7 linked regions of the Homo sapiens genome follow. The protein of the gene in region 2 purifies or fractionates together with the protein of the main gene of each other region. This does not show direct contact. Each region holds a gene or a part of one and is shown on either strand. Other genes may lie near its edges.

The links.
Region 1: the proteins of LHX6 (region 2) and ZNF507 purify together in Homo sapiens (affinity purification with mass spectrometry; 3 studies listed by BioGRID and IntAct, with this or other methods). This does not show direct contact.
Region 3: the proteins of LHX6 (region 2) and SATB2 purify together in Homo sapiens (affinity purification with mass spectrometry; 3 studies listed by BioGRID and IntAct, with this or other methods). This does not show direct contact.
Region 4: the proteins of LHX6 (region 2) and TRIM33 purify together in Homo sapiens (affinity purification with mass spectrometry; 2 studies listed by BioGRID and IntAct, with this or other methods). This does not show direct contact.
Region 5: the proteins of LHX6 (region 2) and ATG2B purify together in Homo sapiens (affinity purification with mass spectrometry; 3 studies listed by BioGRID and IntAct, with this or other methods). This does not show direct contact.
Region 6: the proteins of LHX6 (region 2) and QRICH1 purify together in Homo sapiens (affinity purification with mass spectrometry; 3 studies listed by BioGRID and IntAct, with this or other methods). This does not show direct contact.
Region 7: the proteins of LHX6 (region 2) and TLK2 purify together in Homo sapiens (affinity purification with mass spectrometry; 3 studies listed by BioGRID and IntAct, with this or other methods). This does not show direct contact.

The regions. Positions count from the first base shown.
Region 1 is NC_000019.10:32,344,151-32,348,893, forward strand, and holds the start of ZNF507 (zinc finger protein 507), read left to right. Parts: upstream 1-1,459; 5' UTR 1,460-1,633; intron 1,634-3,094; 5' UTR 3,095-3,188; intron 3,189-3,334; exon of another isoform or gene 3,335-3,480; intron 3,481-4,743. UniProt on the Homo sapiens protein: May be involved in transcriptional regulation.
Region 2 is NC_000009.12:122,222,372-122,226,436, reverse strand, and holds part of LHX6 (LIM/homeobox protein Lhx6), read left to right. Parts: coding exon 1-61; intron 62-4,065. UniProt on the Homo sapiens protein: Probable transcription factor required for the expression of a subset of genes involved in interneurons migration and development.
Region 3 is NC_000002.12:199,342,635-199,346,699, forward strand, and holds part of SATB2 (DNA-binding protein SATB2), read right to left. Parts: intron 1-4,065. UniProt on the Homo sapiens protein: Binds to DNA, at nuclear matrix- or scaffold-associated regions. Thought to recognize the sugar-phosphate structure of double-stranded DNA.
Region 4 is NC_000001.11:114,504,454-114,508,518, forward strand, and holds part of TRIM33 (E3 ubiquitin-protein ligase TRIM33), read right to left. Parts: intron 1-4,065. UniProt on the Homo sapiens protein: Acts as an E3 ubiquitin-protein ligase. Promotes SMAD4 ubiquitination, nuclear exclusion and degradation via the ubiquitin proteasome pathway. According to PubMed:16751102, does not promote a decrease in the level of endogenous SMAD4.
Region 5 is NC_000014.9:96,324,924-96,328,988, reverse strand, and holds part of ATG2B (autophagy-related protein 2 homolog B), read left to right. Parts: intron 1-222; coding exon 223-315; intron 316-453; coding exon 454-642; intron 643-3,066; coding exon 3,067-3,340; intron 3,341-4,065. UniProt on the Homo sapiens protein: Lipid transfer protein required for both autophagosome formation and regulation of lipid droplet morphology and dispersion.
Region 6 is NC_000003.12:49,059,450-49,063,514, reverse strand, and holds part of QRICH1 (transcriptional regulator QRICH1), read left to right. Parts: intron 1-4,065. UniProt on the Homo sapiens protein: Transcriptional regulator that acts as a mediator of the integrated stress response (ISR) through transcriptional control of protein homeostasis under conditions of ER stress.
Region 7 is NC_000017.11:62,593,597-62,597,661, reverse strand, and holds part of TLK2 (serine/threonine-protein kinase tousled-like 2), read right to left. Parts: intron 1,078-4,065; coding exon 988-1,077; intron 1-987. UniProt on the Homo sapiens protein: Serine/threonine-protein kinase involved in the process of chromatin assembly and probably also DNA replication, transcription, repair, and chromosome segregation. Phosphorylates the chromatin assembly factors ASF1A and ASF1B.

The sequences.
Region 1 (4,743 bases), on a different chromosome or scaffold from region 2:
TGGGTTTTCTTCACTGTTTTTTCTTTCCACCCTTCCATGCTAGTCTCCTGCTCAATCTCTTACCTTTTATCGAAAAAAAAATTACTCAACATTTTATTTTTTCACAGCTATTTGGTCTAATTGGCAAAGGATTCTGTGGAATAGCAGAATTCTAACTTTGCAGCCGGGCGCGGTGGCTCACGCCGGTAACCCCAGCACTTTGGGAGGCTGAGGCGGGCGGATCATGATGTCAAGAGATCGAGACCATCCTGGCCAACATGGTGAAACCCCGTCTCTACTAAAAATACAAAAAAATTAGCTGGGCATGGTGGCACGCCCTGTAGTGCCAGCTACTCGGGAGGCTGAGGCAGGAGAATCACTTGAACCTGGGAGGTGGAGGTTGCAGTGAGCCGAGATTGCGCCCCTGCACTCCAGCCTGGGGAGAGAGTGAGACTCTGACTCAAAAAAATAAAATAAAAATAAAAATAAAAATTCTAACTTTGCTGGTTTCCTAACCCCCAAATTCAGATGAATTTGAATTCTGAAATACAGTAACAGGAATTATCAGCCTGTCTGATTCTAAATTTTGTTGGATCTTCCTCCCAGGACCGTGGACAGCCCAGCCAGCTGTAAAGGCCTCTAAAAAGATCTGGAACAGATCCCCAAGAGGTATCTCACCAAATGAGTCCATTCCACTACAATGGCCAGAATCTTCAGTTTTACACCCTTGCTCATGCCCACCGCTCACCCGGAGTCCAGACCCAAGCACCATGCTGCGTAGTTCCTAATACGGCAAAACTATCCAGCATTTTTGGTGAAATTGGCTGGAATGCTTCACTTAGTCCGTTTTTCACTGTTAGCAGGAGAACCACCCTAGTATCTTTCATAGAACAGATCCGAATGACAAACACCATCGTGCCCTCGGAGGGCTGAGCTTGTGTTACTGGGTCTGGTCCTACAAACCCTGAAAATCCTGAATCTCTCAAGCAAAGAGATTCCCCAGGGCCAGCTCTGGCCCTTAACAGGCACCCCTTAACGCCAAGCTGCGAATCTGGCTAGGACCTCTATATTTTAGCCAAGAACACCTTGAAATGTACAGTCCTACCAAAGGAACTAATACAAATCCAGAAGCACAAGGCTAAAGAAAAAAAAAAAAAAAACCCCAATGCCCATTGTTGAAAGCCAATTGCGGGGTGAGTGGGGTGATAAGGCTAGCCCACAGCGGATTTAGGCGACGTGGGGAGATGCCAAAGTGAATACACGGTGACTTCTAAATCTAGACGTCTGGAAGGGGCCATGAGAGCCAGACAACTGGGCCCGAACCCCGCCCGGGAGCCAGGGTTTGCAAGGGGCTAAACCGGCTGGGGAGCCTCCCTCTCGCGGGTCCAGCCTCGGCGGCCCGGGACGCCGGTAGGCGGGGCCTGAGCCTCGCCCCGCCCCCGCTGCCCGCCATTCGGGTCACCTGACCCACCCGCGGCTCACGTGATCCGTCCCCAGCGCCGCCATTTTGGAGCTCCGGATGAGGAGGGGGAAACCGGGGGAAAAGAGGGAAAAGAGCCGGGAGAGAGGTGGGCAAGGACGAGGGCGAGGGCACGGCCGGGTCCTGGCTGGCCAAACGAGGCTCGCGGAAGCAGCAGCCGCCGCCTGACCGCAGGTACCGCGCCCCGGGGCCGCCCCTCCGCCCGCTGTTAGCGCCGCCGCCGGCCATGTGCATCCTCCCCTCAGGCCTCTGCCGGCGCTCGCTTCCTCCTCAGCCGGCCGACCCCCGCCCGGTGCTAGCCACAAGCCCCAAGTTCCGTGTCCCGGTTCTGTCTTCTGTGCAGCAAGGCCTGCGGAGACTCTGGGCTTGCCCTGCAGCTGGGGGTGGGGGGAACTTGCTGCTCCCTGCATACTGTCACCAGCCCGGCCCGCCCGCAGGCGTTGCTTCCTTCTCCAGGCGTTGCTTCTTTCTGCAAATGTGAGATCGCTTAGGCCAGCCGGGATGGACCCAGCCACGATGTTCTCACAGCATCTTTTGATTAATTTTCTAAGCTCCCTCATTCCCGACCCATCACCTCAGTCCTTTAGCCAGTGCGTGGTGTAGAAAAAGCTACTACAGAAACGCAGCCCTGGTCTTCTGCATTTATTACCATCCTCTGGAGATAGAATGATGTCTCCAGAGATCACGGAGACCATCAGGGAAAGTTCCCACCTCTTAAGACCTGGGGGCATCGGAATGAATGGTTTGTGTAGAAGGCCGGGATGATTAATAAGGTGGCGGCCACTTTCCCAACCCCAAGGCGGTATTTTTAAGTTTCTGCAGTGGGCTGTAATTTGCTATCAGTCTGCATCGCTCTTCTCAGGCAATTACTGGATTTATCACCTCTTTGAGTTTGCACTTTCTCCAGTACTCCCCTCTCACTCAGAGTATGGGTTGCATTATTGATTAAAAGAAAGCCTGGCCCTTCATTCCTTTACCTCACTAACTCGTTGAAAATTAACTTCAGGGGAGCCCTAAAGATGTTTTTTCTGCCCTGGCAGTGAGCTATTTTACTTAACCGTAATCGATAAGGTAGTTGCATTCTAGGTGAAACGAATAAGCATTTTTTTATCTTTTAGATTTATTCCAGCCAGTATAAGAAACAGTGGCAAAGAAATGTAGGACCAGAGTAGGAAACTGCGTTAGAAGATATATAGGTCACACCACTGTGTCATATCTTTTTATGCTGTTTTTCTGCCTATTGTGCTTGGTTGCAGAATCACTCGTTAGATTGTATTTTTAGTTTAGATTAAAATAGCAATGTGCAATTTATTGTTCCATTCTCATTAGAAAATGTTGTCAGTAAAACCAATAGTGTTGAGTCCAGTACCTAAATTCTGAGGTAAAACAAAATACACAATTATTGGGAGAAGTTTCCAGAGCTATTTTTTCCTAACTTCTGCAAAATCCTCAAGTCGGCTTGTTAGATAAATTATTTAAATTTGCATTACGTAATAGGGTTGCATGAACATTCCTCTGAATTTCTTTTTACATGGAATATTGAGAAATTTTTCACTGCCAAAAAAAAAATCATTACTTTGTTTCACCAAGAAAGAGAAATGTTTTGATACTATATACTTTCGTTCTTGGCCACAGCTGGATTTTGAAGATTGATCCAAGGGACTGTATTAATTTCAGGAATTGATTTGAAAGACACTGGCTCTGCCACTTAACAGCCATGTAACCTTGGGTAAGTCACTTAAACCACACTGAGTGTTTCCTTATTTATAAGACTGTATAACACCCACCTAGCCTGTCCTAAAGAGTTATGAGGATCAGATACCACTAACATGTTTGATAGAGCCTAGCTGTAAGGAGCTGTTACTCTTTTCAGTATTGATATTTTGTACATTTTTATTCTCATTGAGAATTAAGATGAAAATTGGTGTATTAGAGAAAGCATGGTTTTAGAGTGAGATTGGCCTGGATTCCTGTTCTTAAACCAGTTACCACTTTGTGTCTGTGAGTCTCAGGTTTCTCATCTGCAAAAAAAAAAAAAATACACAAAATTTGAATATTACACAAAATCTACAGAGGCATTACTCCCTAGACTTGCACCTCATGGGCAAGGATTTCCTCAGTCATTTTTGTAGTCCCCAGCATTCTGGTTGGCACATTATAGGTGCTCAATAAATGACAGTAAATCTGAATATTGGTTAATGTTAGTTAGACCTTATGTCTTCATTGCAGCTGCCAAATTAGAATATTCTCTCAGGCTATGTGCCAACTAAGAAACTCTAGACTATGAAACTCCATATACTTGTGATATTTATACTCATTTTTTTCTTAGTGGTAATTAATAATTACCTTGGGCTCAGAAGATTTTAAATCAAATAAATTGTAGCCAATATAGTGAGGTAAATCTATAAATAATGTGTAAGCAGTTTCCAGGTAACTTTATAGACAGTTTATAATTCAGGGACCTGAAAGTTCATCTAGCTTCACCCTCTTGTTTTACATCTGAGCAATCTAAAACTCACAGAGACAGTGACTTGCCTAAGGTCACACAGCTAATTGAGGGCACTTTAGGGGAGGGACCCTTGAGCTTATGTCCCCTGCCTTCTTTTGGCTGGAGCAAAATAAATTTGTCATATTTTAGAATTACAATAATCTGGAAGAATGGGGAATTTATTGGCCATTACTTTTATAGCACAATTTTTTTTTTTTTCCCATTTTGGAAAAAACAAATTCTTGTTCTGAAAGAGAAGGTTCTTTTGTATCATATTGTACTTTTCTTCATATAAACACAGAAAATTACAGCCTTTTCTCCAGGCCCACATGAATTGTTCAACTTGATTTTACTCATGATGACCATACTACTGTAATTATAAAGAACTAATTAGATACCCAAATAACCAAATAGCAAATTATAAGGAAATAAAGACAACTGAAATAATTTGGCTCCTAACTTTTTGTGAGAAAGATATTAATTAGAAGCATTTGCCTGTGGAATACTGTTGTCAAGGAAAGATTTGAGAGAGTTGGTGGAAAGGGTTATAGAACTTTTCTGGTTTGGGATACAACTTTTGTTTATTACTTATTTATTGGTAACAATTTAATATATTTAATGTTGTTATGTCTAAACATTACAAACAAGAAATCTCCTGTTTTGCTAATGCCTGTCGTCTTCTTTCCTCCTGGTGAACTTTCCTATTCAGCCATATCGATCTTTTCACTCACCCCCAGATAGCATGCTTATTCTTACTTCTAAAAATATAGTCATGTCATGGCTGCTTTTCTGGTCA
Region 2 (4,065 bases):
GGCAGCAGAACAGCTGCTACATCAAGAACAAGGAGATCTTCTGCAAGATGGACTACTTCAGGTAGGCTGCGGCCGCCGAGCCAGCAGTGTCGCCGAGGGCAGGCCCCGGGCGCATTCGGAGGCCACTTTTGCGGCGTGTGGTCTCTCCTCCAGAACCCCGGCGTCCCGAGTGCACTTCCGGCGCGCAGCGCTGGTCCAACCTGCCGGCGCTCAGCGGCGCGAACCCAGAGCTCCAGGCAGCGCGCCAGTGCCTGCACAGGTTTGCGCCCCGGATCTGCCTTCGGTCCTCGCGGTCCATTGGGTTTCGGTATCGTCTCTGGCTCTGTCTCGGGTCCTGCCTAAGTCTCAGGCTTCAGTTCTGACCTCGAGCGCCTCGGTGGAGCTCTGAGGTCCCCATTTCTGGCCCGGACCCACTCGGATCCCAGCCGTCGTCCGGCTGCATTTCCAGTGCGTTCGGGCTTCGAGTTCCAACCCTACTCGGACGTCATTCATGGTGGGGTCTCTCGCGGGCTGGACGCTGAGCTGGGCTTCGGACTCTTGCCCTGGCTCTGACCCTCGCTCCGCTCTGGGTTCGAGTCTGGTCCAGCCCAAAGCACCAGCGCCGCAACCGTCTCAGATCCGATCCCATACCCAAGCGCCTCGTCCTGAACCCCAACCTCTGTCTCCGGCTCCATCTCAACTCATTCCCCGGCGTCACTGGAGTGTCGCATTCTGAGCCTGGGGTCATGCGCAGGCCCCCAGCGCCTGTTCCAGTCCCAGCTTCGCTGTTGTTTTGGCCCGACTTTGGCCTCTCCAGGGTCTAGGCCTTGCCTTTAGGCCGCCAGGATGGGAAGTGGGAGAACTGGGCACCCGGAGCCCTGAGTGGGATTACCCCGGGCTGCGCTCTCCCTACTGCAGGCCGCGTCCAGCAGCCGAGAGCAGCCAGGCGCATCCTCCTGTCCTGCCGCGTCTTGGCCACTCGCCTGGGCCTCGCTTCTAGCCATGAAGCCCGGACCTGACCTGATTATGGGGTCGAGGTCACTGCAGGGTCATGGCCTTGTCTGCTGATCCCAGTGGGAGGCATCAACTGGCCTGAGGCTTGGACCACCAGGCCTATAGGATCAGAGGAGAATGGTGGAGAATCACTTCCTGAGAGGGATGCTTGTTCCCAAGTGCTTTCTCAAAAAGTGGAGAAAGCTGCTTCCCTATAACTACCCTCCAACCCACAGACATCTTTCCTATCCTTGCACAGGAAGACGTCATGGCTTCAGTCTTCCTGGCCAGACCCCTGCCCTAGAAAGAGCCTCTGGGAGTCAGGGAATATGGTGGAAGGCGATCTCCTCCTGTGCACTGGCATTGAGCCTCCAGCGATCTGGAAAGAGAAGATCTTGAGTCTAGGGGGAGGTTGGCAGCATTTGGGGCAAGGGTACTCTGAAAACCATGAGAAGCATGGTTAAAGAGACGGACTCTTCCTTTATGGGATGGATGTAGAAGAGTGTGCAGCTGGGGTGGGGTGGGGGCAGCTCAACCAAGTGGCCTAGGACTCAGTGTGCAAGGAGTGCCTGTGTGTCTGTATTGTCTGGGATCTGTGCAGTAGTGCTGGGGAAAGCATCACTGGGCAGGGTTGGGGGTATGTAGATAGCATGTGTGTTCCTTTATGGACCAACGTTTGTCTTTTAGTTCATGTGTGGGTGTCAAGAGTGGGTGTCTGTATGTGAATGTTGAGACTGTGTGTGTGCATGTGTGTGTGCGTGCACGTGCACGCAAAGTGGTGAGGACAGGATTACATCTGGACTAGGATCTGGAGGTGAGAGGGTGAGGTGAGGGGATTCTGAAATCCCATCATTCCACTCCCACCCTCTCCTCTGAGGGGGCATTCCTGCTTAAGGGCCTCCACCCAGGCACTGAGGGATGAAGGGGGTGATAAGAACGTATTTGTGAATCTGGACGGCTGTGTGTGTGTGTGTGTGTAGTCAGACAGGGGTTAATGGTGTGTAACCAGAGTGTGATGTCTCCTCTCACTGTCCCATCTGAGTATTGGTTTGGCCAGGACAGGAAATGGAGGTTACAGTCACTGTCTAGCCACCTCCCTGCTCTAGGCCTGACTCCAGTTGGTATAAAACATGCCAGATGGGCCGGGTGTGGTGGCTCACACCTATAATCGCAGCACTTTGGGAGGCCAAGGCTGGTAGATCACAAGGTCAGGAGATCGAGACCATCCTGGCCAACATGGTGAAACCCATCTCTACTAAAAATACAAAACTTAGCCAGGTGTGGTGGCACGTGCCTGTAGTCCCAGCTACTCAGGAGGCTGAGGCAAGAGAATCACTTGAACCTGGGAGGCGGACATTGTGGTGAGCCAAGATCACGTCACTACACTCCAGCCTGGGTAACAGAGAGAGACTCTGTCTCAAAAAACAAACAAACAAACATACAAAAAAACATGCCAGATGATGCTTGGGGGCTCCTTGGATTCATCAGCTACTAAATTTAAGGTGCCAGCTTGGGAACCCAGCAGAATGGTGTCTGGGTCTCTCCCATAGACTAAGGCACCACTAGGACACCTCTCCTGGCTCTCCTAACAATAGATTTGGCAGTCTTATTCACTACTTGCCCAAATTTCTTTTCTACTTCTCCAGCCCTAGCCCATGCCCATGCTGGACTGAGCCTCCTTGGATACTGTGCTTTACTAGACCTTGAAACTAGTCAAAACACGGATCCTGACTCCACTGTTCAGAGCCTCCCCTTATTCTGGAGTTCTCTTCCTACTGCAATGGGGTAGAGAGTAGGGTGTGCAGCCACTGTGGGAAGAGGCAGGAGACTGGGCCCAGTCTGGCCAGTAGTGACCTTCGCAAGTTGCTGCTTCTCTCGGCCCTTAGTTCGCCCTTTCCAAGGCTGTCTCCCAGAGCTGCCAAAGAGGCCACTGTTGGGGGGAAGTCTCTATAAAGGCTCCCTAAATGGTGGTTGGTATGAATGCCTCGATTATCACTGTTGTCATCATTGGCAGGGTGGATGCTGGGCACAAGCCCATGATGGCATTTCCCCACGCAGCTTGAGGAGCAGAGCCTGCCTGGAGGGATGGGACTGGGCCATTTCTGGGCTGCAGGTTCTGAGCACTAATCTTTTTCCAATGACAAGAGCCCTGAAAGCAAAACTAAACCAGATTTCTGGTTAAGAAAATGGAGGCAGTAAAAGCTCACATTCCCTGGGTTGAGGGTAGAATTGTGGCTCTTCTGATCATTTCTCCCCCTGCAGGCATAACCCATCCCTGGCAGCCCCACCTGTAACAAAAATAATAAAACCCACAAAAAGGGAAAGAAAAAGCCGATCGAGTGCCAGGCAAGGACTATTGTCTGCACTGCACTGCAGCCCAAGCTCTGGGTGGCTGCTATGAGGAAGTTCTTCCTGGAGAGAGTGTGAATGGTGGCGTGGGAGGCAGAATTTTCCTCTAAGGAGCTGGGGCCCAGGGAGGGGTCACATGCTGAGGTTCTCTAGGCTTCTGTTTCCTGAAGCCCGGGGTCAAGGGTCTGGTAGGATGTGGACTGGAGCACTCTGCCCAAAGAGAGGCCAAGAGCTCCCAACGGGGCAAGGGGGAGGAAGGGAGTGGCCAAGGCCCCATGGAGGGGGAGCATGGAGATCCCATGGTCCTCTAACCTCTGGCATTTTCCCCAGGGAAGAGGGTCACCTAGGTTCTATCCCCCACCTTGTCCCTCCTTGACATCATCTTATAGACCCTCCTTCAGTCTCCATTGGCAGAGCTAGCACTGGTGGCTCAGGGAATTAAAGGTTAGGAAGGAACTCCAAGTTCACCAGGGAGAGGGTCTGCAAAGCTTAGAGAAGACATGGAGGTCCAGTGCTGCTCCTGGCTCATTTGCATTGTTGGGAGAGGTTGGTTCTCATTGGCTGCGTGTCCTTGGCCAGGCCACTGGACTCTGCCTCAGTTTCTCCAATTCACACTCTAAACAGGGTCCTTACCAACCCTTGTGCGTTTATCCAGATCTCTACCTCCCCTTACTCCCTGAGATTCCCAGCAGGAAAAAAAAATACCACCAGAAAAATGTGACAGGACTCTTAATTTCTTCACCT
Region 3 (4,065 bases), on a different chromosome or scaffold from region 2:
TCAATTTTATGTTCCTAGTTTAGACCATGTATGTTTCTGTTAGCAAACCAAAAGAGAAATGTAAGGATAAAAATAAATAAATAATAAAATATTGGCAAAAGGCTGTCTATCTCTGACTCCAGCAGATGCCATGACCTTGTCATAAAGTGTGGATAGGGCATCATTTTATCAAACAAATACATTTTATATTCTTAAAAGACATATTTATTAAAATAAAAATAAACTAAAAAGAAGCTCTTGAAAATATGGCTCTATTCTCTTAACTGTGTTATTTTACATCATCAAATGATATGGTGACAATGAATCAGCCATAACAGGGTAATTAATAGTTTCTCTTTGGAGAACTGACATTTGAAATGTTATTTATTATGAATTTAAGTTTTTCATCTGGAAATCTTAAACATGAAAAACTGGGCAGGGTTTTCTTTTCTAACAGTTCCAGGTTTATTTGTAAATGTTTACATATTATTTTATTTTATACACACACACACACACACACACACATACACGATTTGTTCTTGGTATAACCATGAAGCACAAATCCAGGAACACAAAATATAAGGTGACAAAATGAACACACACGATTTGCTCTTGGTATAACCATGAAGCACAAATCCAGGAACACAAAATATAAGGTGACAAAATGTATTAAAATGCTTTTTATTGAATTTGATAATATATGAATAATAGAGATCATGAACTATTTCTGGAAAATATTCAATAGACTGAGGATATGCTACAATGTTTATTTTTGTTTATTATAGCTGGCAAGTCATTATATCATCCATAAACATCTGACTCCACTCAAAAAAGTCTAAACGTTTGGAAAATCTATGGTTGGTTTCATGGGGCATAATATACCATATTTTCCATTTAACAATGCTGCTGGTAAAACCAGCTGCCCAGTCCGGCTGTTAGTGACTACAGTACATACAGCAAAAAACAATCTGCCTGCTGACCTCCTGCTTAAGTTCAAACTATGTCATTCTGTCAGTACCATCTACCTTGATTAGGTTGGGCTTTATACACAACAGGTTATGATCCCAGAGGGATGAAAAGCTTTCCTAAATTAAAAGCAGAATTTTAAAAGGAAATACTCATACATTCCTACGCAGTTTCCATTTGATATCCTCAAGGCTGGCCCATGAACTCAAGCTCATGTTGATTGAAAGTGAATGTTTCTTTCTAGGTGTAGCCATCTTACAAATTTAATGGCAGGAGGAAAATAATAAAATGTGTTTCATGCTTCAATTAGACCTTTTATAACTTGGCACTTGAAAGATGGCAACGCCAAAGAAAAATCATTAATCCATAAAAATAGACAAAAAGGATTATATGGGAGAAGACAGACCTCCAGGAGTCTAGGTCCTTGGCAAAGTATACACTCTCGCCAATATGGTCTGTCTTTGTTTTGCCTCATTGTGAGTCTTCTCTCATGCTTCATGCTACTTGGATAAAATGTATACTGTATTTGCTTCTAAAATCCAAAGTAATACAACCATGCTTTCAATTTTATCCTTAGCCAAAGGAGCTGTATACATAACCAGGCAATAAAATGTTGGCTAGCCATGAAATGCCTATTCATGCACATGAAGGACAGATGAACGAACACACACACACAACACACACACACACACAGAGACAGAGAACTGCAAAATACAGAGCCAAAAGATAGATCCTTCCAATTTTTATTTTGCAGTAGTATGCAACAGACTTTCTCAAAAGGACCAGAGCCTTTCATAACCCCAGTCCAGACAACTATGGACACACAAATATTGCCCGAGTACTTTGAATCACGAGAGAAAGTGGAAGAGTGATGTCTGGAACATGTGAGAGTCTCTCAGGACCTCCAAACTCATTTTCAAGTGATGTTAACAGACTCTGTCAATATTAGAATGTATAAATTAGCTAAGAGTCAAGGGAACAAGAGATTTTTACCTCTCTTGGCCTCCTGCCATACCGAAAATGTCAGCACCAAACCTCAAACAGTCCCACTGTGTTTCTTCCTTGCTCCCAGTCCTGAAGTTCCAGCACCGCTGAAGACCGTTACCAAACCACAATGATTGGTATCATCACCAGTTCATGCTGTGAACTTCCCAAATCCTGTGATCTCAAATTGACCCCCTATCACTTCCAAACTGTCCACCCACTTTGGCCTCCCTTTCAACACCAAATTTTGGAAAGTGTCATGTACTTACTTCTGCATCCTCAACAGCTAATCACTCTTTAACTCCTGAATTCTGGCTCCTGTCCCCACTACTTTAATGAAATTATACTCTAAACTTCGCCAGTCTTCTCCCAACCAACTGCCAAATCTCATGACATGGTTTTAAGCCTCTCTCTCTTAACTTCTCAGCTTTCCACAAGTAGACAAGTCTTCTTCTGGAAACTCTCCACGCATGTCCTCTATACTCTCACTACTGTCTCCCTCTTCTTCCTTCTCCACCTGCCCCCATCTCCTGGCATTTCTTCTCTCTTTCCTGGGGCTGGTGCTGCTGCTGCTGGTGGTGGTGATAGCAGTGATTTCTCCCCTTCTCTCCCCTGACTCTTCCATTTCCTGTCCCAGGCTCTGTGACAACATCTCTAATCTCTTGCTCTAGTCCTGATAACTCTTCTTCCTAGCGCCAAACTCATATTTTCTTTTTCTTTTCTTTTTTTTTATTATTCTAGGGTACATGTGCACAACGTGCAGGTTTGTTACATATGTATACATGTGCCATGTTGGTGTGCTGCACTCATTAGCTCGTCATTTACATTAGGTATATCTCCTAATGCTATCCCTCCCCCCTCCCCCCACAAACTCATATTTTCAATGACTGTTGCACATTTTCACTTAAGAAGTTGGTCAACACTTCAACGTCAAAATAACCCAATCTAAAACTATCACTTTAACCTTACTCCAACCACTCTTTCCATGTCTTCCTGGATTCCCTTCATAATTACACCTTTATTCTCAGGCATCAGGCTTGAAGCCTGGTGTCAGTTCTATTCCTCTCTTTATCCATTTATACACTTTCTGTCCATTTTATTTCCAAAATATTTCTTCTCTGCACCCTCCCCAGCAGCCTAGTTCAAAACCTCTGTACATTTCACCTGGATACTTGCAGTAGCCTGCTAAATGATATTCCTACCCTCTTGCTATCAAACCTCCATAAGACCTAATTAAGATGGTGGGAGCACAGCATATTCCTACCTAAGACCTATGACGGTTTCCAGTGCCTGTTAAAGTTCAGAGCTCTTGTCTTGGCACTCAAGGCCTTTTTCAATCTGTGTCCATCCCTTTTAAGTTTTATTATCTACCTTTCTTATCAACTACCAACTATACTTGCAGTTTTTATACTTACAAATTGATAATAACTCTTTACAAGCAAAGAAAATATAAAAAATATCTTTACACCAAAAAGAGTAGTTTTTCCCATAAAAAGGTAGAATATATATAATAAGAGATAACAAAACTTGCCACGAGGCCAGTAAGAAAATCCCAACCATTAACAAAAACTTATTTTTCTTTTTTTCTTTTTCTTTTTTTTTTTTGAGACAGAGTCTCGCTCTGTTGCCAGGCTGGAGTGCAGTGGCGCAATCTCGGCTCACTGCACCCTCCACCTCCTGGGTTCAAGTGATTCTCCTACCTCAGCCTCCCAAGTAGCTGGGATTACAGGCACACGCCACCACGCCCAGCTAATTTTTGTATTTTTAGTGGAGACGAGGTTTCACCATGTTGGCCAGGATGGTCTCGATCTCTTGACCTCGTGATCTGCCACCCTCAGCCTCCCAAAGTGCAGGGATTATAGGCGTGAGCCACCGCACCCAGCACAAAAACTCATTTTTCAATGACTCATTAATCATACGACAATTTCAAAACTAATAAAAATTTAAATCGCCTACATAATAGAAATACATTTCAATTCAACCAGAGATCCAACACACTTTCGAATAAAGAGAGAAAAAATGTATTAACTGACTTAACAAAAACGCTATTTATTTAACTCACGCAGTATTGCTTAAAGAGTATCTACAAAATTCTTACCTCAATGTTTTCTTGCAAGAGACGTGGAAACCAAAAGT
Region 4 (4,065 bases), on a different chromosome or scaffold from region 2:
CACGCAGAGGTGATGGCAGTTTTATCCATCATTGCTTTTGCACCATTAATATAAATGTCAGCGCAGTGAATAAGGAGAATATCAAATTAGTGTAATTATGAAAATAGTTTTAAACTTGTGCACCTCTAAAAGGGTCTCAGTGACACGGTCACTACCATCACCCCCACCCCAGCATTCTGTGGCCCACACTTTGAGAATCACTGCTTTAAGGTATTCTCATTTAGGACCCACTGACAGCAGAATCCATGAGAAAAGTAAAAGTAATTAAAGTCCCCTAACTAGGGCTTTTGATGTACAAATACTAGACATTATAAAGACTTAGGATTTAGGACATTAGTTTATAAGTTTTTACAAGATCTAGGTAACTAGAAGATTTGGAACTCAAATGATTTATCATGCATGCTGTACATATCAGTAGACATCAGAAAAGCCTTTAAAACCACAATTTACCCCCCTGCCTCTTCTTTCTGTTTGCTGTGAGATACAGTCACAAAGACAACGGGGGGACAAATGAAAAATTACCGAAATAACACTACTACAATTTATTGGGGGCTTCCCATGTAAGCTCCCAATAAATGTACCTTGCAACACATTAACTCTCTTAATTCTCACAAAAACTCTATGATGTAGGTGTAATTATTACTCCCAATTTACAGATGTTAAGTAACTTATCCATGGTCATTCCAGTAGTAAATGGTAGAGCTCAAAAATGAATTCAGGTAGTTTGACCACAATGCTAGACAGAAGTTGTGAGAAGTATTTCAGCAATCTTGGACACATCGTTAATGACTGGTTGTTGGTGGAGTACCACATGATCATTCAAACACTCAAGCTTGTTTCTGTTGAAGAGGAGAGTCAGAAAAAGTAGAGCCTAAAAAGTCCCCAAACCAGTTAAGTCACACTGAGGCCAGAACTGTCATATAGTATACACACTCCAGGGACAAGAAATTCCGAGGGCTCAAACAGAAGACTCCTCAGAGTGGCTCAGCATGGTCTGTGATAAACAGACAGAAACACTATGAGGAAGTGCTCTTCACACTACACTCAGAGGTTTTCCCTCCCACTTACACATGATTGTTGCCATCTCAGACTTTTCATAGTAAGTTTTTTTGTTTCGTTTTGTTTTGTTTTTGAGACGGATTCTCACTCTGTCCCCCAGGCTGGAGTGCAGTGGCGTGATCTCAGCTCACTGCAACCTCCGCCTCCAAGACTCAAGTGATTCTCCTACCTCGGCCTCCCGAGTAGCTGGGATTACAGGTGCCTGCCACCACGCCTGGCAAATTTTTGTATTTTTTGTAGAGACAGGGTTTCGCCATGTTGGCCAGGCTGATCTCGAACTCCTGACCTCAAGCGATCTGCCCGCCTCGGCCTCCCAAAGTGCTGGGATCACAGGCATGAGCCACTGTGCCCAGTCCACAGTAAGTTGAAGAATTCAGTAACAGAATGATTTTTCCATGGTGATTCCACTATTCCTCCCCACAAACTATAAGGACATTAAACGTATGTACATACAGAATGTTAGCATAAAAGACAATAGAATCATATAACCTAACGGGATAGGAACTCAGCCTCTTCGTATTGCAAGACCTGGAGAGACTTCCTAGGTTCCTTGCCCAAGGGTTACGTAGCTAACTAACAGCAGAACCGAGGCCAGGTGGTGCCTCACGCCTATAATCCCAGCACTTTGGGAGGCCAAGGCAGGTGGATCACATGAGGTCAGGAGTTCGAGACCAGCCTAGCCTACATGACAAGACCCTGTCTCTACTAAAAATACAAAAAATTAGGTGGGCATGGTGGCGGGTGCCTATAATATCAGCTACTGGGGAGGCTGAGGCAGGAGAATCACTTGAACCCAGGAGGTGGAGGTTGCAGTGAGCCGAGATCGCACCATTGCACTCCAGCCTGGGTGACAAGAGTAAAAAACTGTCTCAAAAAAAAAAAAAAAAAAATAGCAGAACCCAATGCAACTTAATACCAATTCATTTCTTCAGCCACATCATTGTGCCATCTCAGAGGTAGCCTCATCTCCTTCAAGAGTTCATCTGAGAGTTTGTTCAGATGCATCAATATGATTCCTATTTAAAAAAAGATTTTTTGAGAGACAGGGTCTTGCTATGTTACTCAGGCTGATCTTGAACTCTTGGCCTCAAGTTATCCTCCCGCCTCAGCCTCCTGAGTAGCAAATCTGTATTTTTATTGATAAAGTATAAATGTATATATACCCACTACTGATAGCTGTTCTGCCTCAACCTGAAAAAGCACCCCCCAAAAAATCACAAAAACACTTTAAAAAGCTCACTATTGAGATTCAATATTAACTAATTTATCTATTTTGATTTTGCAAATACTCCAACGGTAAACAGATTGTACTTTCTCCTCAAAATATTTAAATCTGTGTTCCTCAAAGTGTGGTGGTACCACCAGCATCAAAATCACAGGGCACCTGTTAAAAATGCAGGCACATGGAGTCATCACCAAATCAACTAAACCAGTCTCTGAAGAAACTCCCAAGTTAGCATTTTAATAAGCTCTCTAGTGATTCTTATTTACACAAAACTTATTTATTGAACAGTCTACAATATCCTAGTGCAAAGTGAGACGGGCAAGTAAACAAAAATAAACATTTTGGATTTTAGCTGTGCTACAAAGAAAATAAGATGATCTATCAGAGAGCGACCTGGAGGACTACTTTAAAATGAGAAGTCAAAGTCTGAGGAGACATTTGAAGTGAGAGCCCTTCATTCAAGACAGTGGTTCTCAAACTTAAGCGTGAATCAGAATCACCTGGAGAGCTTGTTAAACGAGACTACTGGACAGGAGGTCCGGAATGCGGCCCAAGAATCTGTATTCCTAACAATGTCACAGATGATGCTGATGCTGTTGATCCAGGAACCACACTCTGAGAACTGTTGATCTAGAAAGAACAGCCAGAGGGTGTGAATAAATGTATTAAGAGAAACAGGAAAAGGCCAGTTAGGCAGGAGGGCATTATACTCATCATTGTTTCAAAATCACTTGAAAAAGATGGTGAGTTAAAACCACTAGCTATGATCTCCAGACCAGAGATGATATCTGAGGTTGATCAATAATATCCTGTATTGTTGAAGCATTTCTCAGTTACAAAGCATTTTCACATTTATTATTTGCCTTGGTGAGATATAAGTAAACGACTATCAGCTACATTTTAAAGGGAAACTGAAGGACAAAAACAGTATGAACTTCCTTTAGCGTAAAATAGCTAAAGAGCTGAACTATGTCCCCTAACACCCAATCTAGTGCTCTTTCCAGCACAGCTTGATCTTTTTAAAGAGCAAAGCAGAATGGTATATAGGAGTTAATACTGACAAATTATTTTCTAGACTATCTAAAAACACGGTGGATGGCTAGACACAGTGGCTCATGCCTGTAATCCCAGGACTTTGGGAGGCTGAGGCAGGCAGATCATTTGAAGCCAGGAGTTCAAGACCAGTCTGACCAGTATGGCAAAACCCCGTCTCTACTAAAAACAGAAAAATTAGCCAGGCGTGGTGATATGCGCCTGCAATCTCAGCTACTTGGGTGGCTGAGGCACAAGAATCGCTTGAACCTGGGAGGCAGAGGCTGCAGTAAGCCGAGATCGAGCCACTGCACTCCAGCCTGAGCAACAGAGCGAGACTGTCTCAAAAAAAAATTTTTTTTAATCAAAAACATGGTGGATTCCAGACTCAATTTGTTTTAGATATTGGTTAGAGAGAAATATTACTTAAGATTGACAGCATTTGGTTAGTCCCTTCCACTTACTCCCCCTCCTTCAAAAAGAAAGGATAAAGAAATGAAGAGGGGATTTACATATTATTCTCTCTCCTTCATAAATTTCAGAGAGCCAATTTCATAACCTCAGTCCCTCAGCCACATCAGTCAAACACAATCTGTATTTCTGGGTTCCCTCTAAATCTCTTACCTAACCCAGGTTCCCACAAGAACACTGAATCCTATGTGTCTTACTATGGTCATGGGTGCACAGACCACCAGCAGTTATTCTCTGAACACCTACTAACAATTAGTAGCTTCTCCAACAACCAAAGC
Region 5 (4,065 bases), on a different chromosome or scaffold from region 2:
ACTTTCTTGGAAATGAATTTATTTGAATCCTCGCCTACATTTTACAGATGAGATATCACATGAGTTAACTAACTTGTCTAAGGTTCACATTGCTAGTAAGTGACAAAAATGAAACTTAAAACCAGATTTCTGACTTCAGAAAGCCTTTCTCATTATTGTATGGGCACCTCTGTAAATTCTTGTGATTAATACATTTAATTTATCTTCATCTTTACTTTTAAGCTTTTAACGTTCCATTCCAAAGAAGAAACTGGTTCCCATTCCCCTGTGTGTCTTCAGCTTCATTATAAGCATTCTGAGAATAGAGGGCCCCAGGTAAGAGATCTTTTTCTATAATTGCCACCTGTAAATTTTAATCTGATATATATTTTGTCACAATTATAAGGTTTTAACCCAATTATATAGTAGTTTTTAGTGATTGTATTAATGCCTTTTCTTTTTTTTTTTTAAAAGGGTAATCAAGCAAGACTTAGTTCAGTTCCTCACAAGGCAGAATTGCAAATTAAATTAAATCCAGTGTGTTGTGAGCTGGATATCAGTATTGTGGACAGGTTAAATTCCTTGCTTCAACCACAGAAACTTGCCACAGTAGAGATGATGGCATCCCACATGTATACTTCATATAATAAACATATTAGTCTGGTAAGTATTCAAAAGCTGCAAATACTAATCATAATTATGGTTAGCTAATAGGGTTATTGAGATAATTTCTGAACTTAAGTATTTTTAATAGATTAAACAGTATAATTAAAATAGCATTATTTGTAATAATAAAAAAAGGAGACATCTTTTATGTCTTGATAGTAGACTAGCTAAATAAGTTTTTGAGACACACTGAATGAAATGTTATGTGGTCATTTAAAATGATGGTTATGGCCAGGCGTGGCGGCTCACACCTGTAATCCCAACACTTTAGGAGGCTGAGGTGGGAGGATCACTTGAGGCCAGTTCGAGACAAGCCTGGCCAACATGGCGAAACTCTGTCTCTACTAAAAATACAAAAATTAACTGGGCATGGTGGCACACACCTGTAATCTCAGCTACTCAGGAGGCTGAGGCATGAGAATAGCTTGAACCCAGGAGGCGGAGGTTGCAGTTAGATCGCATCACTGCACTTCAGCTTGGGTGACAGAGCGAGACTCTGTCTCAAGAAAAAGAAAAAGAAAATGATGGTTATGAAGATGGTATAACAACATGAAGAAGGCTCATCAAGGATTAAATGAAAAAGTAGAATATATTGCTTTACATAAACTTGTCACACCTGTGTAAATAAAATTGATGTATAGAAAAAGAATGGCGAGAAATATGCCAGTCAGTAGCATTGTTTATATTACAGTGGAATTAGGTTTCCTTTACTTTTCATGTCTATCAGAGTTTTTATAAGCTGTGATTATAACGACTTTATAAAATTTTATCTATTTATACATTTGATAAGTTACTTGAACTACCTAAAACATGAAGCCCAAACAATATGGGATATACTTTTGAAAATAATCTATTGAACATCACATTATATCACTTTTACTTGCATCTGGTGCCTGGGGTCTTTTCTAAGCAAATTAAATCAGTCAAGTTTGCAAGAAGTCTGTTAGGAATTTTGGGGCCAGAGGACCAGGATCAGATGGAGACAACCTTAGTTAAAAAGAAAAGGAAAAAGATATTTTATTTTTCTACTTCTTTGCTTTTCTCTTAGTATTGAGTATTCACATCAAATTAGCATTGTTTATTATTATTATTATTATTATTATTATTATTATTGAGACAGACATCTGTTGCCCAGACCGCAGTGCTGTCATACGGTATCAGCTCACTTCAGTCTTGACCCCCTTGGCTTAAGCGATCCTTCTACCTCAGCCCCCCAAATAGTTGGGGCTACATGCATGTGCCACCACACCCGGTTAAGTTTTTATATTTTGTCTCCCTATGTTTCCCAGGCTGGGCATTCTTTGTTATTGTTATCAATTGCTAGTTATTTTAGTTTCTGTGGGGTAGTCTGTATATTAGCTGTAACTATATATGCAATTGGATGATGGTTTAATCTGTTGGGTTATTTTTGCCTGAGAGTGGTGGTTAAATATTAGCAAATCAAATGGGGAGAGTTAGAATAGATTTGTTAAAAATCCAAGTCTGGATGGGTGTGGTGGCTTGCACCCATAGTCCCAGCAACTCAGGAGGCTGAAGCAGGAGGATTGCTTGAGCCCAGGAGTTTGAGACCAGCCTGGGTGATACAGCAAGACCTGTTTCGAAAAAAACAAACACAAAAATTGTAAGTCTAGCATATGCAGGGAGTTTTCAAATCATGGAGGTTAGAAATTGATTGAAGAAACTGAGGAGTGTTACAACGTAGAGTGGAATAAAGCTTTTTTAGTTTCAATATATTTTAGAGAAAAAATAGAAATAGATTTCTATTTGAATGGGATGTTCTTTGACCCTTTTATTGTAAGATGGCTTTGGGTAAAATGGTGCATATATCTTGGTCTCATAGAACCATTTGATGAGATCATACCCTTGGATTGGATAGGAGCTCAGAGTGCGTCATTTAGTGAATATTTATTTAGAACCTGTGATGTGCCAGCCTCTGGGTTTTATCTTAGAAGTACAAAGTTGAGTCAGCGATTGTATTTGGCATAATTCATCTGATTTCACATTGAGTATTTAAAATCATATATTGGTAGAAAAGTCTTTCAAACTGAATGTTGGACACTACAGTGATTTTTAACCGTATTGAATTTGTTGGTAGGCTAATTTACACCGTATTCTTTATAAATTTATAGTAAGATAAATATTAATATATAGTGCCTTTGTCTTCACTTTGGCTCAGTTTTTAATTTAATTTTTTATTTCAGAGTTTAACTTTTGCCAATAGTTTTCACTTTTGCTAATAGTTGTTGCATTATAAAATTTTTTTACACTAAATTAATATGGTAGTGGTTAATTTGAATTGACTTTTAATGCATTATACCAAATGGGGAGATAGTGATTATACATATTGTAATGTTGAATACTGTGTAATTTATGTTCATTTACTTTAATATTTTGGCATATTTTTGATGTTTTGTGTTTTAGCACAAGGCTTTCACTGAAGTGTTTCTAGATGATTCACATAGTCCTGCAAATTGTCGGATATCAGTACAAGTTGCCACACCAGCATTAAACCTTTCTGTTCGCTTCCCAATACCTGATCTTCGATCTGATCAAGAAAGAGGACCATGGTTTAAGAAGTCACTTCAGAAGGAGATCCTTTATTTAGCCTTCACAGATCTAGAATTTAAGACTGAATTTATAGGAGGATCAACCCCAGAACAAATTAAATTGGAACTTACCTTTAGAGAACTAATTGGTAAGATTGAATGTGCCTGTAAAAGAACCATCCTAGATAACAAACAACTGCTACTGAAACTTAACATCACAAAAGTATCTGACAGCCCTGCAATATAGTACAATTAAAGAACATTATGTTAAAATCAACAGCAACAATGTCTTTCTAGTATTGTATGCAAATATGTGATATAGGTAATTTTTTAAAAACTAAGGATGATGATTCATTCACTTTGTTAAAATTCCTGTTTACTGCAGGAGAGTGTAGTACTTTAGCCTACATTTTTATTACCACCTCTCGTTTATTTATTGTAGGACTGATAATAGAACTTGTTAAGTGCCACTGTATGTTAAATATTATGCTAAGCACTTGATACACATTTTCTTGTTTTTTTAGTCATCATAATCACCATATGTTTATTTTTCCAGTTATTTTTATAATTTAATAGATGAGACCATCTGTGGACCTAGAAGGAAGTATCTACCAAGATCATGTTGTAGTCAATGGCAGAATCAAGATTTGAACCCAAGTCTGACAGTGGAGCTTGAGCTTTCAACCATTACACTAACTAATCGCTAGTGACTTTTATTTGTAAAACTCGTTTTGATTTTTTCTGCATTACTTTGTTTTTGTCAGTTAATGAAGGGAATTTATAAAAACTTTAAAGTGAACCAAGTCTATGAAGACCTGGAAAACCTTTTATCCTGTGGTTCCTAGACCACCTGCCTCTGCCACGACACCCTCTC
Region 6 (4,065 bases), on a different chromosome or scaffold from region 2:
CCCAGCCCCAAATTCAGGCTTTGACTAAGAAATCTTGAAAACTGCTGTTCTGCAGTAATTGGCTACATAGTTTCCTCTTATGTCTTTGGCATATAGCCCTAGTTCTTAAATTTGACCATGTAATTACACTGGAGGACTTGATAAAACCACTTCTTAGAATTTCAGAGTTAGTAGGTCTGGAGTGGTACCTGACAATTTGTATTTCTGAGTGCCTGGATGCTGCTGCTGCTGTTGGCATGGAAACTACATTTTGAGAACCACTGGTGCAAGGAAATAATATTTTACTTCATGGAGAGAAATAATAAACCTACTTATTTGAACACCTATTATCTGTAACTAAATATTATTTTATGTTTAAAACACTGTAGGGAAGTAGACATTCTCCCCTTTTATACTTACTGTACCTAAAGAAACTGTTTAGAGGTTAAATTTCCCCATGGATTCACAGGCAGAAAAGTGCAGCATCAATTCACATTGAAGTCTGTGATCTCAAAACCTGAGCCTTTTTTTTTTTTGAGACGGAGTCTCGTTCTGTCACCCAGGCTGGAGTGCAGTGGCGCGATCTTGGCTCACTGCAAACTCCGCCTCCCAGGTTCACGCCATTCTCCTGTCTCAGCCTCCCGAGTAGCTGGGACTACAGGCACCCGTCACCACGCCTGGCTAATTATTTTAATAGAAATGGGGTTTCACCATGTTAGCCAGGATGGTCTTGATCTCCTGACCTCATGATCCGCCTGCCTCGGCCTCCCAAAGTGCTGGGATTACAGGTGTGAGCCACAGCGCCCGGCCTTTTTTTAAAAAATATACTTAGTAACAGCTTTATTGAGATATAAGTTACCCATTTGAAATGTATAATTCAGGCACACTGGCTCACACATGTAATCCCAGCACTTTGGGAGGCCAAGGCAGGTGGATCACTTGAGGTTAAGAGTTTGAGACCAGCCTGGCTAACATGGTGAAACCCTGTCTGTGCTAAAAATGCAAAATTTAGCTGGGCATGGTGATGCGTGCCTGTAATCCTAGCTACTCAGGAGGCTGAGGCAGGAGAATTGTTTGAACCAGGGAGGCGGAGGTTGCAGTAAGCTGAGATTCCACCACTGGGCAACAGGGCAAGACTTTACCTCCCAAAAAAAAAAAAAAAAGCGACTACACCAATTTTTTCTTGTTTTTTTTTTTTTCTGAGATGGAGTCTCACTCTGTCCTTGACTGGGCTGGGTATAGTGGCGCCATCTCGGCTCACTAGCTTCCACCTCCCAGGTTCAGGCAATTTTGCTGCGTCAGCCTTCCGAGTAGCTGGGATTACAAGCATGTGTAACCACGCCCAGCTAATTTTTGTATTTTTAGTAGAGACAGGGTTTCACCATGTTGGCCAGGCTGGTCTGGAACTCCTGACCTTGTGTCCACTGGCCTCAGCCTCCCAAAGTGCTGGGATTACAGGTGTGAGCCACCGCATCTGGCCAACTACACCAATTTAACATGCCCACCAGCAGTTTCAAGTTGTCTATATCCTTACCTATACTTGTTATCTGTCTTTTTTAGATATAACTTATTAGATATAAAGTGGTTTCTCATTGTGGCTTTGATTGGAATTTCCTTCACAGCTAGTATGATATGGAGCAACTTTTTATGTGGTTCTTGGCCATTTGCATATATTCTTTTTTTTGGGAGATAGTTTCACTCTTGTTGCCCATGCTGTGGTGCAGTGGTGCAATCTCGGCTCACTGCAACCCCCACCTCCTGGGTTTAGTAGTTCACCTGCCTCAACCTCCCAAGTAGCTGGGATTACAGGCATGCACCACCATGCCTGGCTAGTTTTGTATTTTTAGTAGAGACGGGGTTTCACCATGTCGGTCAGGCTGGTCTCAAACTCCTGACCTCAGGTGATCCACCCACCTTGGCCTCCCACAGAGCTGGGATTACAGGCATGAGCAACTGTGCCTGGCCTCATTTTCTGCCTTCTTGTTTTCTACCTTTCTAATTCCTACTTGTGGTTAGGGTAATTTATCTATGTGTCTGATGGTAAAAGCTGTTTTTTAAAAGTTGCATACTATGTATTTTTTTCTTTTCATGCTCTTTTGCATGCTGACATAATAATAAGACAGTAACTGTATTGTTATCAGAAACATGTCATCCAGGTTATGGTAATATTGCTCAGATTAAATTATTGGGATTCTGTTTATTTAAATGCCTTTCCCATTAAACATATGTTAAGTAAGCACTCTAAAGCAGTGGTCCCCAACGTTTTTTGCACCAGGGACTCGTTTTGTGGAAGACAGTTTTCCACAGACATTGATGGGGGTGGTGCTTTGGGATGAAACTGTTTCACCTCACATCATTAGGTGTTAGATTTTTTTTTTTTTTTTTTTTTTTTTTTTTTTTTAAGATGGAGGCTCACTCTGTCACCCAGGCTGTGATGCAGTGGTGCTCTCTCTGCTCACTTCAACTTCCGCCTCCTGGGTTCAAGCTATTCTGCCTCAGCCTCTCAGGTAATTGGGATTACAGGCATGCACCACCATGCCTGGATAATTTTTTATATTTTTAGTAGAAGTAGAGGTGGGGTTTCACCATGTTGGCCAGGCTGGTCTTGAACTCCTGGCCTCAAGTGATCTGCCCTCCTCAGCCTCCCAAAGTACTGGGATTACAGGTGTGAGCCAATGCACCTGGCCAGGCATTAGATTCTAATAAGGAGCATGCAGCCTAGATACCTCACATTTGCAGTTCACGATAGGGTTTGTGCTCCTACAAGAGTCTAATGCCACCATTGATCTGACAGGAGGTGGAGCTCAGGTGGTAATGCTCACCTCTGTGCTGTGTCGTTCGCCTACGGACCAGTACTAGTCCTTGGCCCCAGGGTTGGGGACTTCTGCCCAAAAAATCAGGCTGGGGGCTGGGTATGGTGGCTCACGCCTATAATCCCAGCACTTTGGGAGGCCAAGGCTGGTGGATCACCTGAGGTCAGGAGTTTTGGACCAGCCTGGCCAACATGGTGAAACCCCGTCTCTACTAAAAATACAAAAATTAGGGCTGGGTGTGGTGGCTCACACCTGTAATCCCAGCACTTTGGGAGGCCAAGGCAGGCAGATCACGAGGTCAGGAGATCAAGACCATCCTGGCTAACACGGTGAAACCCTGTCTCTAATAACAATACAAAAAATTAGCCAGTCGTGGTGGCGGGTGCCTGTGGTCCCAGCTACTTGGGAGGCTGAGGCAGGAGAATGGCATGAACCTGGGAGGCGGAGCTTGCAGTGAGCTGAGATCACACCACTGCACTCCAGCCTGGGCGACAGAGCGAGACTTGGTCTCAAAAACATATATATGTATATATAAATTAGGTCTGGGCGTGGTGGCTCACGCCTGTAATCCCAGCACTTTGGGAGGCCGAGGTGGGCGGATCATGAGGTCAGGAGATCAAGACCATCCTGGCTAACACGGTGAAACCCTGTCTCTACTAAAAATAAAAAAATCAGCCGGGCGTGGTGGCACGCACCTGTAGTCCCAGCTACTCGGGAGGCTGACACAGGAGAATCGCTTGAACCGGGGAAGTGGAGGTTGTAGTGAGCCGAGATCGCACCACTGCACTCTAGCCTGGGCGATAGAGCGAGACTCCGTCTCAAAAAAAAAAAAAAAAAGTTAGCTGGATGTGATGGCAGGCACATGTAATCCCAGCTACTTGGGAGGCTAAGGCAGGAGAATAGCTTGAATCCGGGATGCAGAGGTTACGGTGAGCCGTGACTACCATATCACTCCAGCCTGGGGAACGAGCGAAACTCCATCTCAGAAAATAAATAAATAAGGCTAGGCATGGTGGCTCAAGCCTGTAATCCCAGCACTTTGGGAGGCCAAGGTGAGCGGATCACAAGGTCAAGAGATCGAGACCATCCTGGCCAACCAACATGGTGAAACCTCGTCTCTACTAAAAATACAGAAATTAGCTGGGGGTGGTGGCATGCGTCTGTAGTCCCAGCTACTCAGGAGGCTGAGGCAGGAGAATAGCTTGAACCCAGGAGGCGGAGGTTGCAGTGAGCTGAGATCATACTACTGCACTCCAGCCTGGTAACAGCGAGA
Region 7 (4,065 bases), on a different chromosome or scaffold from region 2:
TATGAGCCTGTATTTCAACATGTAGCACTGAGCCTTGTCTTCATTAGTGCCACATTTCTTATCTCAGTCTAGGATAAAATCACACGGCCAGTACTTTTTAAAAAGGTCTGTCAATGTTCATAAGAGTCTCTGGGGTGAGCAGAAACTCTCTTGAACAGTCTACACTCACTAGTGCACGTCAGTGGCATGCTGGCACCAACTCATGCCAGTTTCCAAGAGCTGACTTAAATTTTCAAGAATTTTGTGAGCTGGTTATCAAACCGTTATAAGCAAAATGTGGTATATCCACACAATGGAATATTATTTTGCCATAAAAAGGAATGAAGTACTGACACAGGCTACAAGGATGAAATTTGACAACACCATGGTAAGTGAAAGAAGCCAGTAATAAAAGTCCACATACTATATGATTCCATGCATATGAGGGTCCAGAATAGGAAATCTATAAAGATAAAACAGACAGATTAGGGCTAGGGCAGAGGGATGGAATGGTGGAATAGATGAATAGTAGTAAAAGGTATGATGGGGTTTGAGATGGTGAAAAAATTCTAAAATTGCCTCTGGTGGTTGCATGTATCTATGAATATGCTACAAACCACTAAACTGTATATTTTACATGTGTGAATCATACAGTATGTGAATTATAATTAAGATGTTTAAAAAAAAACAAAAATAAACAGGTGGTACATCAAAATTAGACACAGGAGGAATATCTACACCACGGAAACTGGCAAACACTATAAATTAGCCCTGTCTCTCTTCATACCAAGCTGGCTGTTAAACATTTACTGGCACACAAGTGCACATGTCCTTTGGCCTAGAGGTTTCTTGCTGATCCAAATCTGAATTTATGTTTGATCATTTGTCACAAATTACTTGGTTCCCTCAGAGGGTATGTCCTGGACCCAGAGTTCAGCTCTATTCCATGAACAATCAGCATTGCAAGAAAATAATATAACTGTTAAGGTAAAACAGCACAGCACTTACGAGTCAGTATCCAGTGAAAAGTAATCATACAGCTTAACTATTCTGGGATGATCCAGCTCTTTATGAATCCGGTATTCCCTACATGCATGCCTGTAAACAAAAGGGAAAATTAACAAGAAGGTATATTGGCCTGCCTTTTAGAACTCTTCAAAGATCCTCCTAAATATTCAATCATTTCTCTATTGTCTCCACATGTTAATTCCATTCAGGTCCATCTGGTCCCTCATCTGACTTTTCTCTTTGCTCATCCTATTTTCTCCACTGGAATCTACCAAGCCATTGAGAAAATAATAGGTGCTCTGGCTGGGCGTAGTGGCTCACGCCTGTAATCCCAGCACTTTGGGAGGCCGAGGCAGGTGGATCACGAGGTCAAGAGATGGAGACCATCCTGGCCAACATGGTGAAACCCCGTCTCTACTAAAAATATAAAACTTAGCTGGGCGTAGTGGTGCGCACCTGTGGTCCCAGCTACTCGGGAGGCTGAGGTAGGAGTCACTTGAACCCAGGAGTTGGAGGATGCAGTGAGCTGAGGTCGCGCCACTGCACTCCAGCCTGGTGACAGAGCGAGACTCTATCTCCAAAAATAAAATAAAATAAAATAACAGGTGCTCAAATATTTGTTAAGTGAATGGATGTCAACCCTTTTCATCCCTTTCAAGTTCATTCTATGATAATCACACCTCTTTTCCACGTATACTCAAGTATCATAGATTTTAAAATAACAAGGACGGTTATTTTCCCCCCTCCTCTAAAGCTGATACATCATATCTGTAAATGTATATATGCTCGGGTAACATCAAAGGGGTCATTTTTAGCATGTAAACCCCTTAGGTTAAAGCATTATCTGTTACATAAATCAATTAGCAGTACTTTGTATTTTTTGTTTTTAAATCCTTCTTACAAAAACAATTTAAGTGCTATTAGCTTTACTTTATTCTAATAAAATATGAAATGTGAAATTATGGAACCCCAGTTTTCTTAGAATGGCGAATTTGATACAGTCATCCACTGCAGAACAACCCTTCGGTCAATGATGCTAAGCCACACATATGACGGGGTCCCATAAGAGTATAACAGAGCTTCCCATGAACTGAGGAAGAAAAAAAAAAAAAAAGTACAACAGAGGTGAAAAATTCCTATCACCTGGTAACCCAGCAGTCATGATGTCACCACACAATGCATTACTCGCGCTTGTGGTGATGCTGGTGTAAACAAACCTACTGTGCTGCCAGCCATATTAAAGTCTAGCACCTAACAATTATCTACAGTATATAACACTTGATAATGATAATAAATGAATACATTATTGGTTTATGTATTTACTATACAGCAGGCCCTTAAATAACATCATTTTGTTATAACGCTGATTTAAAAAAAAAAAAAAAAAAAAAGGGGGCCAGGCACGGCAGCTCATGCCTGTAATCCCAGGACTTTGGGAGGCCAAGGCGGGTGGATCACCTGAGGTCGCTGGATCACCTGAGGTCAGGAGTTCGAGACCAGCCTGACCCAACATGGTGAAACCCCGTCTCTACTAAAAATACAAAAATTAGCTGGCCGTGGTGGTGGCCACCTGTAATCCCCACTACTCAAGAGGCTGAAGCAGGAGAATCACTTGAACCTGGGAGGTGGAGGTTGCAGTGAGGCGAGACTGCGCCATGGCACTCTAGCCTGGGTGATAAAGTTAGACTCCGTCTCAAAAAAAAAATCAATTCCTGGTCGGCACCACTGTCCATGTGGAGTCTGTTTGTTCTTCCCCTATCTGTGTGGGTTTTCTCAGGTTATTCTGCTTTCCTCCCACATCCCAAAGGCACATGTGTTGGGTTCACCGGCATACCCACATGGGGTGTGTGTGTGTGTGTGTGTGTGTGTGTGTGTGTGTGTGTGTACCCGCCCTGCAATGGGATGGCATCCTGTCTAGGGTGGCTCCCACCTTGCCCCTGAGCTGCTGATATAGGCTCTGGCCACCCTCAACCCTGAGTGGGGAATGAGTGGGTAAATGTTACCTTGTTTCTATTAAACTTTCTTAAATGTATATAAAGCTCATATACATTTCAACGTTTAGTATTAGAAGTGTTTTAGTCTTTATTTAGAAGCTGGGTAATGTTTTTGTGACCAGGAATATGCCACAGGAACTTAACTCTTGTTTATGTCAATTAGCCTATGGTAAAATTGGTTTTGTTACACCTTGTTTCCCTTAAAGTTGTAGTTTCCAAGAACCTATCACTGCTACTAAGTGAGGGCTTATGTACTGCACTTTTTTTGTTTTTGAGATGGAGTCTCGCTCTGTTGCCAAGGCTGGAGTGCAGTGGCGCGATCACAGCTCACTGTGGTCTTTGCCTTCCAGGTTCAAGCGATTCTCCTGCCTCAGCCTCCCAACTAGCTGGGATTACAGGCACATCCCAGCACGCCCAGCTAATTTTTGTATTTTTAGTAGAGAGGGGGTTTTGCCATGTTGGCCAGGTTGATCTTGAACTCCTGACTTCAAGTGATCCGCCTGCCATGGCCTCCCAAAGTGCTGGGATTACAGGCATGAGCCACGGCACCTGGCCTGCACTGTACTTTTTAATTATTTAAATTTTAGAGAGCAGGGGCGGTGGCTAACGGCTGTAATCCCAGCACTTTGGGAGGCTGAGGCAGGCGGATCACTTGAGGTCAGGAGTTTGAGGCCAGCCTGGCCACCATGGAGAAACTGCGTCTCTACTAAATATACAAAAAGCAGCAGGGAGCGGTGGTGTGCACCTGTAATCCCAGCTATTTGGGAGGCTGGGGCAGGAGAGACGCTTGAACCCAGGAGGCAGAGGTTGAAGTAAGCTGAGATAACACCACTGCACTCCAGCCTGGGCGACAGAGTGAGACTCCATCTCAAAAAAAAAAAAAAAAAAATTTAGAGTGTACCACTTCTACTTATTAAAAAAAAAAAATTAACTACAAAACAGCCTCAGGCGGGTCCTTCGGAGGGTATCCCAGGAAAAGGCATTGTTATCATGGGGGTGAAAGCTTCATGCATGTTATTGGCCCTGAAGAGCTTCCAGTGGGACAAGATGGAGATGGAAGAAAGTGATATTGATGGTCCTGACC